2 separate regions of the Homo sapiens genome follow, and region 2 is linked to region 1. A link means that fine-mapping ties the variant in region 1 to the expression of a gene that starts in the linked region. Tissue or cell type: whole blood. Region 1 holds a variant in brackets; the other region holds the start of a gene. All regions are shown on one strand. Distances are between the middles of the regions.

Region 1 (8,000 bases):
CGCCCAACTAGCTGTCCTTGAGAAGCAGCTTCTCCTCAGGGCAGCGGAAGGGGCCAGGGGGCCCGGCAGCTGCCAGCCGGGCACAAGCTTCGGGTGAGAGCTGGCGGCAGGAGCGCAGGTCTAGGCGGCGTAGACGAGGGCAGCGGCGGAACAGCGGGAGGCAGTGGTCCGTTAGGCGGTGGCAACCTGGGGATGGGGCAGTGGAGCTGAGACCAGGCAGGTGAGCAAGGGGTTGGCACTGGCCGTGGGGATCCACAGGCTGGCAGGACGGATGGGGGACCGTGCTTACCAGCAAGATTGAGGTGCACCAGGGTCTCGCGGAGTGGGGACGTGGGGGCCGTGAGGAGGTGAACACTGGGGTCCCCGACGTGGGCGCAGTGGCTCAGGTCCAGGGCGCTCAGCTGGGGTGCGTGACGCAGCAGGAGACGCAGGGAGGCATCTGTCAGCTCCAAACCTGCCAGACGCAGTTCTGCCACCCCCTGCAGCCGACCACGGCTCTCTGTTTGCCCTGGGCAGCCAGATGAGAGGTCAGCACTCCTGGCCACTCCCATCCCTGCGCCCAGGTATCCAGACCATCTGCCCTCCACCTGCTTCCCACATAAGTGAGTGACCTGGTGCACTCTGTGGCTTGCTCTTCTCAAAAACACCCTCATGGCCTGACCTCATCTGTCCACTCCTCACATCACCTCCTCGGAGGCCTTCCATGATTATTGTATTTGAGACTACAATATTCTGCCAGGCGTGGTGGCTCATGCCTGTAATCCTAGCACTTTGGGAAGCCGAGGCAGGCGGCTCACTTGAGGTCAGGAGTTCGAGACTAGCCTGGCCTAACATGGCAAAACCTTGTCTCTACTCAACATACAAAAATTAGCCGGGTATGGTGGCAGGCGCCTGTAATCCCGGCTACTCAGGAGGCTGAGGCAGGAGAATCACTTGAACCCGAGAGGTGGAGGTTGCAGTGAGCCACGATTGTGCCACTGCACCCCAGCCTGGGCAACAGAGCGAGACTCCATCTCAAAATAAATAAATAAATAAATAAAAGAGTCTGTGACCTCCCCTCCTCTCTCTTGCTGTCTTGCCATGTGACATGCCGATTCCTTCACGTTCCATCAAGAGTAAAAGCTACGTGAGGCTTCCCCAGAAGCTGAGCAGACGCAGGCACGATACTTCCTGTACAGCTTGCAGAATCCTGAGCCAATTCAACCTCTTTTCTTTATAAATTACCCAGCCGAAGGTATTTCTTTATAGCAATGCAAAAACTAATGTAATTCTCCACACTCCTACCACTTCCTTGCATCATTTTTTCCTCTTTTTCTCACCATTTGACATATTATATGCATTTTTCTGACATACATACGTTTTCCTTTTTTTTTTTTTTTTTTTTTTTTCCCCGAGACGGAGTCTTGCTCTGTCACCCAGGCTGGAGTGCAGTGGTACAATCACAGCTTACTGCAGCCTCAACCTCCCTGTAGCTCACTGTAGCCTTGATCCTCCCACTTTGGCCTCCCAAAGTGCTGGGATTACAGGCCTGAGCCACCGCACCTGACCAGAGTTTACTTTTTTTTTTTTTTTTTTGAGATGGAGTCTCACTCTGTAACCCAGGATGGAGTACAGTGGTGCAATCTCGGCTCACTGCAACTTCCACCTCCCAGGTTCAAGCAATCTCCTTGCCACAGCCTCCCAAGTAGTTGGGATTAAAAGCATTTGCCACCACGCCTGGCTAATTTTTTGTATTTTTTTAGTAGAGATGGGGTTTCACCATGTTGGCCAGGCTGGTCTCAAACTCCTGACCTCAAGTGATCTGCCCACCTCGGCCTCCCAAAGTGCTAGGATTACAGGTGTGAGCCACCATGCCCGGCCCAGAGTTTACTTTTTTAACAAGTTCTCCAGTTTTGTGGATGCTGCTGGTCCCCCGACCACACTTTAAGAACCACAGCCTTGGGAGACAAGATCTCTGATCATCATTCCTGTTTACAGCCAGGAAACCCAGGCCTGGTGATGCTGAATCTGAACTCTTACCACAGTGTTGTCTGCCTCCCAGGCACCAGCCTATCCCTAAGATAAACTATTAATAGATCAGATGGCACAAACCATGAGGCTGCCCTCCAAACATGTTTTATGGAGTCTACAGAATGCTAAAAACTTCCTTAATGACTAACACTACAAAAAGGACATTTTTATAAATAAATTTACATACTGAGCTTTTCCTTGAAGAATCGTAAGATGTGGCCTCACTAGGCACTCCTTCCCACCAGATGATGACTGAGGGGAGCTGGGTGGCTAGGTGCCACTCCCTAATGTCCTACACCAATGCATCACTTCTGTTACCTCCCAGGCCAACTCTATGGGCACTTGACTTTGCAAGCCCTAAATTTTAACCCCTCCTCCTGTCTTTGAGGAGCCAAGCGCCTGGAGAGGGGATACCTTTACAGATGCCCTCAACCTTGGGCCACAGCTAAAGGCACAAGGAGGAAAGGCCCATAGAGGAAAGCAGAGGAAAGAGAAGTCACTTCTGGCTTGGGCAGGGAGGAGTAGGCATCAGTGAGGATTTCACTGAGGTGGTGGCATTTAAGCTGGGCAAGAGTTTGAAGGTGTATGGCACTGTTCACAATAGTAAAAGCCATGGAATCAACCTCAATGCCCATCAATGAAAGAATGAATAAAGAAAATGTGGTACATATACACCATGGAATACTATGCAGCCATAAAAAAGAACAAGATCATGTCCTTTACAGGAACATGGAAGGAGCTGGAGGCCATTATCCTTAGCAAACTAATGCAGGAACAGAAATTGCATGTTCTCACTTAGAAATGGGAGCTAAATGATGAGAACACATGGACACATCCATGGGAACAACACACCCTGGAGCCTTTCAGAGGGAGGAGGGAGAGGATCAGGAGAAATAACTAATGGTAAATAGACTTAATACCTGGGTGATGAAATAATCGGTACAACAAACCCCCATGACACAAGTTTACCCATTTAACAAACCTGCACATATACCCATGAACTTAAAAGTTAAAAAAAAAATTTAAAAACTAAAAAAAAAAAAAAAAAAAAAAAAAAAGGCCCACCTTCCTGAGCTCCTGATAAAGGGCTGAACTGAACTGAATTCCAGCAGGAGGAAATGGACCAGCCAGCACTTTCTCACCTCCCAGGATGCACCATTCCCAATGCCCACCTTACCCCCCACCCATAGCTCTCCAACTCAGTCCAATTCTGGTAAGAGTGGACAATGGCTGAGTGCTCTGGCCTGACTGGGTGACCTGCAGCAGTCAATCCCTCTGGGCCTCCAGTGCCTCATCTAGAATACGGGAAGAATCTTAGTTGCTTCTCTATTCTCCCCTTTCAGGGCTGTTGTGGAGGGGGCATGGTGGGAAGAAGGGAACTATGAAAGAGAGGGGTGAAAGAACTCCAAAAGAAAAGATTCTTTTGGCCAGGTGTGGTGGCTCACGCCTATAATCCCAACACTTTGGAAGGCAGAGGTGGGCAGATCACTTGAGACAAGGAGTTCGAGATCGGCCTGGACAACATGATGAAACCCTGTTTCTATAAGAATTACAGGCCGGGTGCGGTGGCTAACACCTGTAATCCCAGCACTTTGGGAGGCCGAGGCAGGCGGATCATGAGGTCAGGAGATCAAGACCATCCTGGCTAACACAGTGAAACCCCGTCTCTACTAAAAATACAAAAAATTAGCCAGGCGTGGTGGCGGGCGCCTGTAGTCCCAGCTACTTGGGAGGCTGAGGCAGGAGAATGGCGTGAACCC[G/A]GGAGGTGGAGCTTGCAGTGATCCGAGATAGCACCACTGCACTCCAGCCTGGGCGACAGAGCAAGACTTCACCTCAAAAAAAAAAAAAAAAAAAAAAAAATTACAAAAAAATTAGCCAGGCGTGGTGGCACACGCCTGTAGGCCCAGCTACTCAGGAGGCTGAGGTGGGGAGGATCACTTGAACCCAGGAGGCATAAGTTGCAGTAAGCCGAGATCTTGCCACTGCACTCCAGTCTGGGTGACAGAGCCAGATGGTCTCAAAAAACAAAAACAAACAAAAGGATTATCTTATTTCAGGGGACTGCAAATCTCCTTTTGAAAATCTTTCCTCAAACTAGACCTCTCCCATCCTGATTGCTCATTCAAGTTATTCATTCAACAGCTATCTATGGAGCAGCCACTGAGAACGTGCTGGGGGACCAGCCAGCGCTTGCCCTCAGGGAGCTGGAGACCCTGGCAGGAGGGCACAGATGTGCATCAAGGCACTCCACAATTGCCCAGTATTATGCTGGCGGGCTGCTCTCAAAGCTGAGAGGGACTCTGAGCTCAATGTGGGGTGGGATCAGGGAGAGCTTCTTGGAGGAAGTGGCATTTATACCCAGGCCTAAAGGATGATGAGATTTAAGTAGATGAAGAGAGATGGCCTCTGCTCCCAGCATCCCCCTCTGCCAATATGGGCCTCCTGCCCCACCAAACTGCTGAGTCTCACACTCCCTGGGAAAACCCTGTTCCTTTCAAGACTCAGTTCAAAGTACACAGCAGGTGGGTGAATGAATGAATAATGCCCAACCAGGGCCTTCCTATTCAAACTCATGTATTCTTTCCTTTCTTCAAATACTTTACCATCCAGCATGAGTCAGAAGAGACCTGAGAGGCCTCCTACCCTACCCTTGCCCAGCCCATTCTCCAGAAAAGCAAACAGAGGTTGCACCTGGTTTGGTGTCTGGTGGAGGCAGCAGCAACTCCCGGAGCTGGGAGTCTTTAACATCCTCGATCCAGCGGAGGTCCAGGAGCCGCAGGGCTGGCAGTGGGGCTGAGCCCAGGGCAGAGACAGAGAGCCAGGAGCAGCCAGAGAGCACCAGCTCCTGCAGGCCTGCGGAGAGGGGGCAGTCAGGAAGCAGGTGCTGTGAGGACTCCATCCCAGGCCTGTCCCTGTCCCCACCCTGTCCTCCGTACCACACACCCTACCTTGTAGTCGGTTCAGAAGCCACATGAGCTGCTTCTTGGAGACACCTGTCCAGCTGAGGTCCAGGGCACGGGGCTGGCGGCGAACCACACCACTGAGCATGGGCGGGGTCAGTGACTTCCGCCGGCTCAGGTCCATTCGAGGCCACAGACGCTTGTCATAGCACCTGGCGGCCATAGGGGGGAGACAGAGACCTCAGCCCTCAGCTCTCAGCAGCCCACAGTTCCCAGGCTCCCCAGCTCCAAGGGTGCACCCCAGCTCTCTTCTGGCCACACAGACAACAGGGTAGCAAGAAGCACCTGACCTCAGCCAAGAGCACTGGGATTGGAACCCAACTCCATCACTAACTGGAAATGAGACCCTGGGCAAGTCTGTTCCTCTCCCTGAGCCTCAGAAGCCTCGTTTATGATTGAAGGCAATAGCCCCCCCACTCTGCCTGCCCACAGGGCAGCTGTCAGGTCACATGGGCTCATCCCAGCTGTGGGCCTCCCAGCATAGAAAGTGTGCTGCCCAACACATACACAAATGCCACGCATGCTGCCTGATGTCATGCCAAGGGGACTGGTGTTATCCAGTCGTCTCCAGCCACCCTTGGGCTTCTTGATTCCTGACTGAGTTCTGGTGCTCATGGGTCCTTGCCTCCTTTACTCATCTCTGCTTCTGATCCACACCTGTCCCATCTTGACAGCCAGCTGCCCGCAGCTGGACTTACAGCCCTAATATCTTCCCTATTACATTACTGTGTTCCTCCAACTACAATGTAAATTCCACAAGGGCAGATTTGCGTTTTCCACTTTTTGAAAAAAAATTTTTTTTGAGACAGGGTCTCACTCTGTAACCCAGGCTGGACTCAGGCTCACCGCAGCCTCAACCTACTGGGCTCAAGCAATCCTCCCACCTCAGCCTCCTGAGTAGCTGGGACCACAGGCACATGTCACCACGCCTGGCTAATTTTTAAACAATTTTTTTGTAGAGACAGGGTCTCACTATGTTGCCTAGGCTGGTCTTGATCTCCTGGCCTCAAGCGATCCTCCTGCCTTGGCCTCCCAAAACACTGGGATTACAGGCATGAGCTACTGCACCCAGCTGCCCATTTGTAATGAATGAATCAAGCTAGTAACTACTTAAAGCTTCCACTGACCACTCTCCCCCACCTCCTCATCTACAGCATTTCATTTATTCACTCTGATTATAGAAAGCGTTATAGGTCCCAAGTATTGAAGCTACAAAGATGAACGAGTCCTAAGCAACATTAAACAGGTTTCCTAACCCGAGCACTCCACAGGCCTCAACAGACTATCTAACATGCAGTGGGCTGGGTGCAGTGGCTCACACCTGTAATCCCAGCACTTTGGGAGGCCGAGGTGGGTGGATCATGAGGTCAGGAATTCGAGAACAGCCTGGCTGTTCTACTAGTGAAACCCTGTCTCTACTAAAAGTACAAAAAATTAGCTGGGCATGGTGGCGGGCGCCTGTAATCCTAGCTACTCGGGAGGCTGAGGCAGGAGAATTACTTGAACCCGGGAGGCGGAGATTGCAGCGAGCCGAGATCGCACCACTGCACACCAGCTGGGGCAACAGTGAGAGACTCCATCTCAAAAACAAACAAACAAACAAACAAACAAAAAACATGCAGTGAACTGGAGAAGGGCCTCTCAAACGTACTTCCCCAGGAATCCTTCCCCACCTCTCCCAAGGTAATCTAGTAACATTTTGTAGTACACTGAAGTTCCTTTGGACTCAGTTTGAGAACTCTCTTCTCTGAGTTCAGTAGTTCTCAAAGGCATGTCCAGAAATGCCTCTGAGACTCAATAGACTGTGTCAGAAGCAGCAGGCCCAGGAAGCTTTTTTTTTTTTTTCTTGAGACAGTGTCTTGCTTAGTCACCCAGGCTGGGGTGCAGTACTGCGATCACAGCTCACTGCAACCTTAAACTCCTGGGCTCAAGCCATCCTCCTACCTCAGCCTCCTGAGTAGCTGGGACTACAGGCACATGCCACCACACCTGACTTTTTTTTTTTTTTTGAGACAGAGTTTCGCTCTTGTTGCCCAGGCTGGAGTGCAATGGTGTGATCTTGGCTCACTGAAACCACCATCTCCCAAGTTCAAGCGATTCTCCCGCCTCAGCCTCCAGAGTAGCTGGGATTACAGGCATGCGCCACCACGCCCGGCTAATTTTTTGTATTTTTAGTAGAGATAGGGTTTCTCCATGTTGGCCAGGCTGGTCTCGAAATCCTGACCTCAGGTGATCTGCCCACTTTGGCCTCCCATAGTGCTGGGATTACAGGCGTGAGCCACTGTGCCTGGCCTATTTTTTTATTTTTAGTAGAGACAAGGTTGTCCAGGCTGGTTTTGAACTCCTGAGCTCAAGCGATCCTTCCCTTGGCCTCCCAAGGGAAGCTTTCTCTTGCCTCCCTCCCTGCCCTCATGACTCTGAAAGGCTTTTCCTTGTAGAAGCCCTGGGCTGGGGCAGTGATTCCCAAGCTCCAGTATTTGCTGTTCACTTATCTGCGTAACATGATTTATCTTTGAATCATCTCCTCTTTGCACTTAAAACCAGTATTGTTGCCGGGCGCGGTGGCTCATGCGTGTAATCCCAGCACTTTGGGAGGCCGAGGTGGGTGGATCACTAGGTCAGGAGATCAAGACCATCCAGGCTAACACAGTGAAACCCCGTCTCTACTAAAAAAAAAATACAAAAAATTAGCTGGGCGTGGTGGAGGGCGCCTGTAGTCCCAGATACTCGGGAGGCTGAGGCAGGAGAATGGCGTGAATCTGGGAGGTGGAGCTTGCAGTGAGCCGAGATCGTGCCACTGCACTCCAGCCTGGGCGACAGAGCGAGACTCCGTCTCAAAAAAAAAACAAAAAAAAAAACCCCAGTATTGTTTCACATAAATATGTTAATCTTAAAAATAAACACAAAAGTCCAAGTGTGGTGTAATCCCAGCACTTTGGGAGGCCAAGGTGGACAGATCACGAGGTCAGGAGATTGAGACCATCCTGGCTAACACGGTGAAACCCCATCTCTACTAAAAATACAAAAAAT
Region 2 (8,000 bases), 210 kb before region 1:
AATCATTGTCTTGGCTGGGCACGGTGGCTCATGCCTGTAATCCCAGCACTTTGGGAGGCCGAGGCAGGTGGATCACCTGAGGTCAGGAGTTTGAGACCAGCCTGACCAACATGGAGAAACCCCTGGGCAGCTGGGACTACAGGTGCACACCACCACACACAGGATCGCGTTATGCTGCCCAGGTTGGTCTAGAACTCCTGGCCTCCAGCAATCCTCCCATCTTGGCCTCCCAAAGCACTAGTACAGGCTTGAGCCACTGCACCTGGCCCCAAAATTTTATTTATTTATTTATTTATTTCGAGACAGAGTCTCACTCTATCACCCAGCCTGGAGTGCAGTGGTGCGATTTCAGCTGAGCACAACCTCCGCCTCCTGGGTTCAAGCCATTCTCCTGTCTCAGCCTCCTGAGTAGCTGGGATTACAGGCACATGCCACCATGCCCAGCTAATTTTTTAATTTTGAGTAGAGATAGGGTTTTACCATGTTGGCCAGGCTGCTGGTCTTGAACTCCTGACCTCATGATCCACCTGCCTCGGCCTCCCAAAGTGCTGGGATTACCAGCATGAGCCACCGCGCCCAGCTCCAAAATGTTTATTAACCACTAAATTGGAGCAAGCAATGTATCGGTGAGGGTCTCCAGGGCGTGCATGTTTTGCGTCAATGACACTTGCACTCTCTTCTTTCCTACCTTTGCCCATTACCTCATTTTTCTGAGTTTTGGTTAAATGATTGGTTATTTATCCTTTGAAGGGCAAATAGCTACCCAAGCAGCAAGTTAAACAAATGCCTGAGGAGGCTCTCATTGTTAAGAAATCTGAAGTTAAGACTCAATTTACCTCCATCGTTTCCTGTGGACAGGCTAAGGCTAGCAGGTTTATCAATTGAGCCCAGTCCGTTGCTGGGTGGCTGAATTTGCATTTTCCCTCTTCCTGCTCACTTCTCATTTTCCCTCAATCTTGCCACCCTGGGATTGCACCTCCCAATTAAGCACAAGCATGCAGGCTTTGCCTAGGCCTGTTTTCTAGGGCAACTAGACTCATAGACCAATATTATTATTAATTGATATTATCAGTAAGAAGATAGATACACATGTGTAAATATTCCTGGGTTGACCCTGCATTTCTGCTGTCCACCCTGATTTGTTCCCTAAGAGTGACCTTTATGGACCATATAATGGTCTCCCTTGAACTCTGGCCTCTGGGAGGTTTCAATGAAAAGAGCCAGGGGGTGATCAGAGGATGGGAGGATCCCAGCACTTTTGGAAGACTGAGGCAGCAAGATCGCTTGAGACAGGAGTTTGAGACCAGCCTGGGCAACATAATAAGACCCCATCTCTACAAAAATAAAAAACATTAGCTGGGTATGGTGGTGCGTGCCTGTAGTCCCAGCTTCTCAGGAGGCTGAGGCCAGAGGATCGCTTAAGCCCAGGAATTCGAGGTTACAGTGAGCTATAATCACAGCACTGCACTCCAGCCTGGGTGACAGAGTGAGACCGTGTCTCTAAAATTTTTTAATTGGTTTAATTAAAAATAGAGAGGATGAGATGAGAGTGAGATGGGGATTTTTCTTTCCCCACTCCCTCTCTGCTGGTAAAGGCTGCATTTCTCTATTGAAGGCCACGGCTCCTAACAGCTATCTCTTCCATAGCTGCAGCTCTTGCTGGGTTCCAGTAACTGCCCCCTCTCTGCCTCTTCAGGCCAGCAGGTAGCAAGGGCTCTCTATTATTGCTGGCCCCAGGATGCGTTACCATCCCTCTTTGGTTTCCTTTTTTTTTTTTTTTTTGTGAGACGGAGTTCGCTCTTGTCACCCAGGCTAGAGTGCAACGGCGCTATCTTGGCTCACTGCAACCTCCACGTCCTGGGTTCAAGCATTTTTATCTGCCTCAGCCTCCCTAATAGGTGGGATTACAGGTGAGTTCCACCACACTCGGCTAATTTTTGTATTTTTAGTATAGATGGGGCTTCTCCAAGTTAGCCAGGCTGGTCTTGAACTCCTGACCTCAGGTGATCTGCCCGCCTCGGCCTACCAAAGTGCTGGGATTACAGCCGTGAGCCACCCAGCCTCTTTGGTTTCCTTTGACCCTGCCTACACTTCTATAAATAGTTTCTTCCTTAAACTCTCTTCAACTCCTCTTTGAAGAGCCATATGTTTCTTTCTTCTTCTTATTCTTCTTTTTTTTTTTCTTTTTGTTGTTGTTGTTGAGACAGGGTCTCGCTTTGTCACCCAGGCTGGAGTGCAGTGGCACAATCATAGCTCACTGCAACCTCGACCTCCCAGGCTCAAGCAATCCTCCCACCTCATCTCCCGAGTAGCTGGGATACAGACGTGCACCACCACGCCCTGCAGTTCATAATTTTTGTATTTTTTAATTTTTTGTAGAGATGGGGTCTTGCTATGTTGACCAGGCTGGTCTTGAACTCCTAGCCTCAAGCAATCCTCCCACCTCAGTCTCCCAGAGTGTTAGGATCACAGGAGTGAGCCACCGTGCTCGGCCAAGTCATATGTCCCTTAAACTGGCTCTTACTGATACACACCAAGAGGTTGGGTTACTTTCCCAAAGTCACACAGAGTAAGTGACAGGGCAGCTAAGAGCATTGTCACTGGAACACAGAGCAGGGTGGAGGCTTTTTCAGCCTCGCCAGCCTGCCCAGCCCCCTCCCAGGGTCCCTATGCCCTGCCCAACCTGCTGGAATCTGTGATCCTTTTGTTGGGATGGGATTGAATTCCCTAGGGCTCCTGTCCCAGACCTGGCCAGCAGCTCCAGTAACCAGAGCTGTGTGAGAAGAAAAGGCCAAGCCACTGGGGCAGCCGCACCCCAAACAGAGGTGAGGTCTCCGATGAGTCATGCCCGTGAGGGGCCACTTCCCCTGTCCTAAGGGCCACTGCTCACCAAGGACACAGAACACTGTCCTCCTCTTTGACCTTTGCCTGCAGTGTTTTTCATCCCTCCCTCTCCCACCCAACAGGTGTCCAGGAGCTAGGACACCTGTCCTCCACCCCCACCCTGGGCCTCCAGAGACATGAGATGTGCGCAGGGCTCTGGGTGGGGCCTTCAGGCTCCCCAGCTTCCCCCTTCCAGCCCCAGATCCTCTCAGATTCCCAGAGATGGGCTCCAGCCAGGGAGGGTGGGGCTGCCCCTGGGACCATCAGGAGTCACGGGCTGCCTGGGCAGTGACAGAGCCCTGCAGGGAGCAGACCTTCACTTGGCTCTGCCTCCGCTGACTCTAGCGCCATGGCCCGGCACCTGCTCCTCCCCCTTGTGATGCTTGGTAACCTCAGGGGACAAGAGTGGCTGCAAAGGGCCTGGGTCCTGGCATCTGGGGGGCTGGAGAGCAGGATTCCTGGTTTCTGTGTGGGGAGCAGGAAGTCAGAGAGAAGGAAGTGAGGCAGCAGAAGGCGAGGATGTATCAGAGGAGGGAGAGGGAGGCCTGGGTGCCCTGGGGAGACGGAGGCTAGGAGGCTGGGGGAGGGAGTCAGGGAGGGCACATACTGAGTGCGAGTCGCCAGCCTCTTCCTGCCTACCTCTGTCTTTCCAGTCATCAGTCCCATCCCAGGAGCCTTCCAGGACTCAGGTAAGGTAGCCGGACTGGGGGAAAGTCACGTGCAGAGGCAGAAAAGACCAGAGGACTGGCATGGGTGCTGGCAGGGGTTGCTGAACGGACAGGGAAGTGGGAAGATAGGGTCGGGGGTTGGAGAGCAGGAAGTGGGGCTGGGCGGTGCAGGCCTGGAAGTCACAAGTGTCCTCCTCTCTTTCCCCTCTGGCTCCCAGCTCTCAGTCCTACCCAGGAAGAACCTGAAGATCTGGGTAAGGAAGAGGCCTTGGCACCCTCAGACCTTAAAGGAGGCTAAGGCTGGTCAGGCCATGAGGGAGGTGGAAAAGACCAGAAATGTAGACAAGCCTGGGTCCTCTATGTTCTTTGTTCAGAGGGGCAAACTGAAGTGGGTGGAGGACGGGCCTTCGTCCTGAGTTACCTGGGCTTCTGGAGTGGGGAACCCGAGGGGAGCTTTGGCTTCCACGGCTCCCCGTTGCAGACTGCGGGCGCCCTGAGCCCTCGGCCCGCATCGTGGGGGGCTCAAACGCGCAGCCGGGCACCTGGCCTTGGCAAGTGAGCCTGCACCATGGAGGTGGCCACATCTGCGGGGGCTCCCTCATCGCCCCCTCCTGGGTCCTCTCCGCTGCTCACTGTTTCATGACGTGAGTATTCGCCCTGGTCCTGGCCCCTCTCCGCCAAAAGCTGGCCCCCGCCCCCGCAGTTGGTCCCCTCCTCCCGCCCCACTTCCGTCCTCAAGGATAATTTGGAGCCAAGCTGTCCCCAAAGCGAGGTGCTATTCGAGGCATCATGGTTCCGAGTGGGGCAAGGCTGCCGGACTGGTCCCACCACTCCACTCAATATCCGGGTCTGAATCCCATCTTTCCAATGACCCCCCCACCACCAGCTCCAAATCGGATTTGCTCTTCCCCTTTGAGGAGTATCAGCACCAAATCTGGATCGGATAGCACCTGCCCCTCTGGCTCTGAGCCCCTGCCCCCAACGAGGGTCTGCCCCCTCCATAGGGTCAACCTAACCTCCTACTGCCCCGGTCGAGCGCAGGAATGGGACGCTGGAGCCCGCGGCCGAGTGGTCGGTACTGCTGGGCGTGCACTCCCAGGACGGGCCCCTGGACGGCGCGCACACCCGCGCAGTGGCCGCCATCGTGGTGCCGGCCAACTACAGCCAAGTGGAGCTGGGCGCCGACCTGGCCCTGCTGCGCCTGGCCTCACCCGCCAGCCTGGGCCCCGCCGTGTGGCCTGTCTGCCTGCCCCGCGCCTCACACCGCTTCGTGCACGGCACCGCCTGCTGGGCCACCGGCTGGGGAGACGTCCAGGAGGCAGGTGAGTGGGACGGGACAAGAGGGGAGGGCCTCGGGGAGGTGGGGCTTCGAGAGGTGAGGTTCCTAGGGCGGGGCCTCAGGAGGTGGGGCCACGGAGCGGAGCCTGCGGGGAGCGTTGGAGGGTAGGTTTCTGCGGGTCGGTGGATGAATCCCACACCGATCTCCATGTAGCCTTCTCCCTGCAAGGATTCTCAAACTAAGACCACGGAATCACCCACACGCACCCCATTCCCTCCTTACCTGTCCTTCCAGTTTTTTCTTTCCTGGGTTTAGGCTCCGACTAGGGTTCCCATCCCAGCTCTAACATGTCAGACAAAGCACTTCACCCAGTACATTTCCTCATCTGTAACACGAGGAAAATAGCCATACCCACTTCAAGGGGTGGTTGAGTGGATTAAATGAGAAAATCCATGTAAAGTTCATAGTACAGTGCCTGGCATAGCAATAACCAATGCACTTTACATATTTCACCTCAGGTAATCTATAGTAAAGCACTACAGCATAAGGCTGGCCTATAATAGATATTCAGCAAATGCCAGTCTGTGCCTCCCTCCCATCCGCCTTCCTCTCATTCCATCCACCCCCACTCATCTCTCTACTCCCCACCTCCTCTCTTCTTCCTACCCACCATCATTCATTCAATCATTCTTTCACTCAAGATATTTCTTGAGCACCTTCTACATGCCAGGCACCGTGTTAGGCATTAGAGAGACACCAGTGAACATAAAAAGCCAAAATCCTGCCTTTTCAGAGTTTACATCCTAGGAGATAGACAAGCAACAAATTCAATAAATAAGCACGCATTATGTTAGAAGGTGGGGGGGAATAGACCAAATCTCCATCCCCATCATCCCCATCACCCAAGCTTTCCATGCTCCCAGGGCCCCCACAAATATCCACATCAGCCGTGGTCAGACCTGTGCCCATCCTCGGGGCTTTGGGTAGGTGCTACAGGGGAAGATGCTACAGCCTCTGCTTGTGGAGGTCCCATCAGGGCAGGAGGTGATGAGGAAGCGTCACTGTGAGCCCCAGGAAGTCTGTGTGAATGGGGCCAGGCCATCCTAACAATGGGCACCCAGAGAGGGAGATTTCTGCAGAGATTTTTGAAGAGAGGGTACATTGCAGGAAGATGGGGGGAGATGAAGGCCACCCTGTGGACCCAGATAAGTCATGTTAGATGAAGAAGGGCCAGGATGCCAGGCTGGAGTGAGAGGGGTACAGGCACCTGGGCTGCAAAGGCTGCTGTGGCCCGGCCATGAAGACCTTAAGATCAGACTGAGGGCCAGAGCACCCCACCAGCTCCAGGGACGCCCAGGACAATCCCCAACTTCCCTGGTGAGCCCCAAGTACAGCTTCAGCCATCACCTGACCTCAAATTCTTTTCTTTTTTTCATCAATTCTTTTTTTCTTTTTGAGACAGAGTTTCACTCTTGTTGCCCAGGCTGGAGTGCAACGGCGCGATCTAGGCTCACTGCAACCTCCGCCTCCCAGCTTCAAGCAGATTCTACTGCCTCAATCTCCCAAGTAGCTGGGATTATAGGCACCCACCACCACGCCCAGCTAATTTTTTGTATTTTTAGTAGAGACAGGGTTTCACTATGTTGGGCAGGCTAGTTTTGAACTCCTAACCTCAGGTGATCCACCTGCCTCGGCCTCCCAAAGTGCTGGAATTACAGGTGTGAGTCACCGCGCCTTTGACCTCAGATTCTGAGTGAGTTGGGGAAGGAGTTCTGTCTGTACTTCCCCCCACCCCCTACTCCTTTCTGGATCCTGAAGCTGTTTCCGTCAAAAGCAGGATGGGCTGCAGCACCAAGTTTAGACAGTGTGATCCGTTTATTTTTCTTGGTGAGATCAGAACTGAACTTGAGTAGCATTCCTCTTCATTGCTGAAGTGAAGAGTGGATCAGAAGGCTGGGTCAGTTATCCAGGCCCAAAGCTATGCAGCCTCAACTAGTGTAGTTGTTTAGAATGCCAAGACGTCACAAATGAGAGGTTTTCATGAACTGGGAACTGACTGGAGGAGGGGAGTTGAGAGAGGAGACAGGGATGACACCCAGATTCCATGCTTGGCAACTCAGGACAGGACCATGTCAAGTCCGTATGGCATCTCTGTGAAAAGATGTCTCTGGACCAACACAACTCCACGTGAGAGCTCAGAACTTAATGGTTTTAGTCCCTACATTGCATCCTTTGTTGCAGTGCACAACCTGCACAACCATGCATGGCAGCTCTCACTAGGAGCTTGATGAGACCATTCCTGAGATGAAAAAGTAGAAAGAACAGATAGAAGCAGGAGGAGATGTGGTGAATGTGGTGGGCTGAGAGGCCATGGGGCATCTAGCTGATGTCCAAGAAGCAGCCGCAGGAGGCAAACCTGAACCCTGGGAACTGGGGATGCCATACCTGCCTCACAGCACCTGCTCTCTGGTTCTGCCTCCAGATCCTCTGCCTCTCCCCTGGGTGCTACAGGAAGTGGAGCTAAGGCTGCTGGGCGAGGCCACCTGTCAATGTCTCTACAGCCAGCCCGGTCCCTTCAACCTCACTCTCCAGATATTGCCAGGGATGCTGTGTGCTGGCTACCCAGAGGGCCGCAGGGACACCTGCCAGGTGAGGGAAGGCCCCGGCACCTGCCTGGCAGGGCCAGAGTCCTAACCAGTGACAAATAGATAAAGGACATCTCTCCAAGCCTCATCTGCAAAAGGAGGGCAAGATTGCCAAGGGATGGGGTTGACGTGAAGTTTTTTGTTTGTGTATTTTGAGACAGAGCCTCACTTTGTCGTCCAGGCTGGACTGCAGTGGCGCAATCTCGGCTTACTGCAACCTCCCCCTGCTCCACCCCCACCGCTCAAGCGACTCTTGTGCTTCAGCCCCCCAAGTAGCTGAGATTACAGGCATGCACCACCACAGACTGCTAATTTTGCATTCACTTGCGCCTGGCCAAGTGAATTTATTTATGTATTTATTTATTTATTTATTTAATTTATTTTTTGAGACGGAGTTCCTTTTTTTTTTTTTTTTTTTTTGAGACGGAGTCTTGCTCAGTCGCCCAGGCTGGAGTGCAGTAGCATGATCTCAGCTCACTGCAACCTCCGCCTCCCGGGTTCACGCAATTCTCCTGCCTCAGCCTC

What was found. PIP is the estimated chance that this variant, and not a neighbour inherited with it, causes the effect.
Region 2: it holds the start of PRSS36, and the variant in region 1 is fine-mapped to the expression of PRSS36 in whole blood (TOPMed, PIP above 0.99).

Annotation. Positions count from the first base shown.
Region 1 is chr16:30,939,238-30,947,237 of GRCh38, reverse strand. FBXL19 (F-box and leucine rich repeat protein 19) reads right to left here. Exons shown (of 11, transcript NM_001382779.1): 8 at 4,959-5,122; 9 at 4,702-4,863; 10 at 290-508; 11 at 1-186. The coding sequence ends at 8. Among named protein-coding and RNA genes, the nearest start is that of ORAI3, 5.8 kb to the left of the region's middle. RefSeq lists an enhancer at 3,732-4,674 and a silencer at 5,099-5,228. The variant G/A (reference allele first, on the strand shown) is at 3,771.
Region 2 is chr16:31,145,268-31,153,267 of GRCh38, reverse strand. PRSS36 (serine protease 36) reads left to right here and starts at 3,202. Exons shown (of 15, transcript NM_173502.5): 1 at 3,202-3,269; 2 at 3,537-3,572; 3 at 3,770-3,805; 4 at 4,033-4,195; 5 at 4,593-4,873; 6 at 7,313-7,479. The coding sequence starts at 3,233. RefSeq lists enhancers at 2,958-3,494, 3,495-4,030, 4,031-4,568.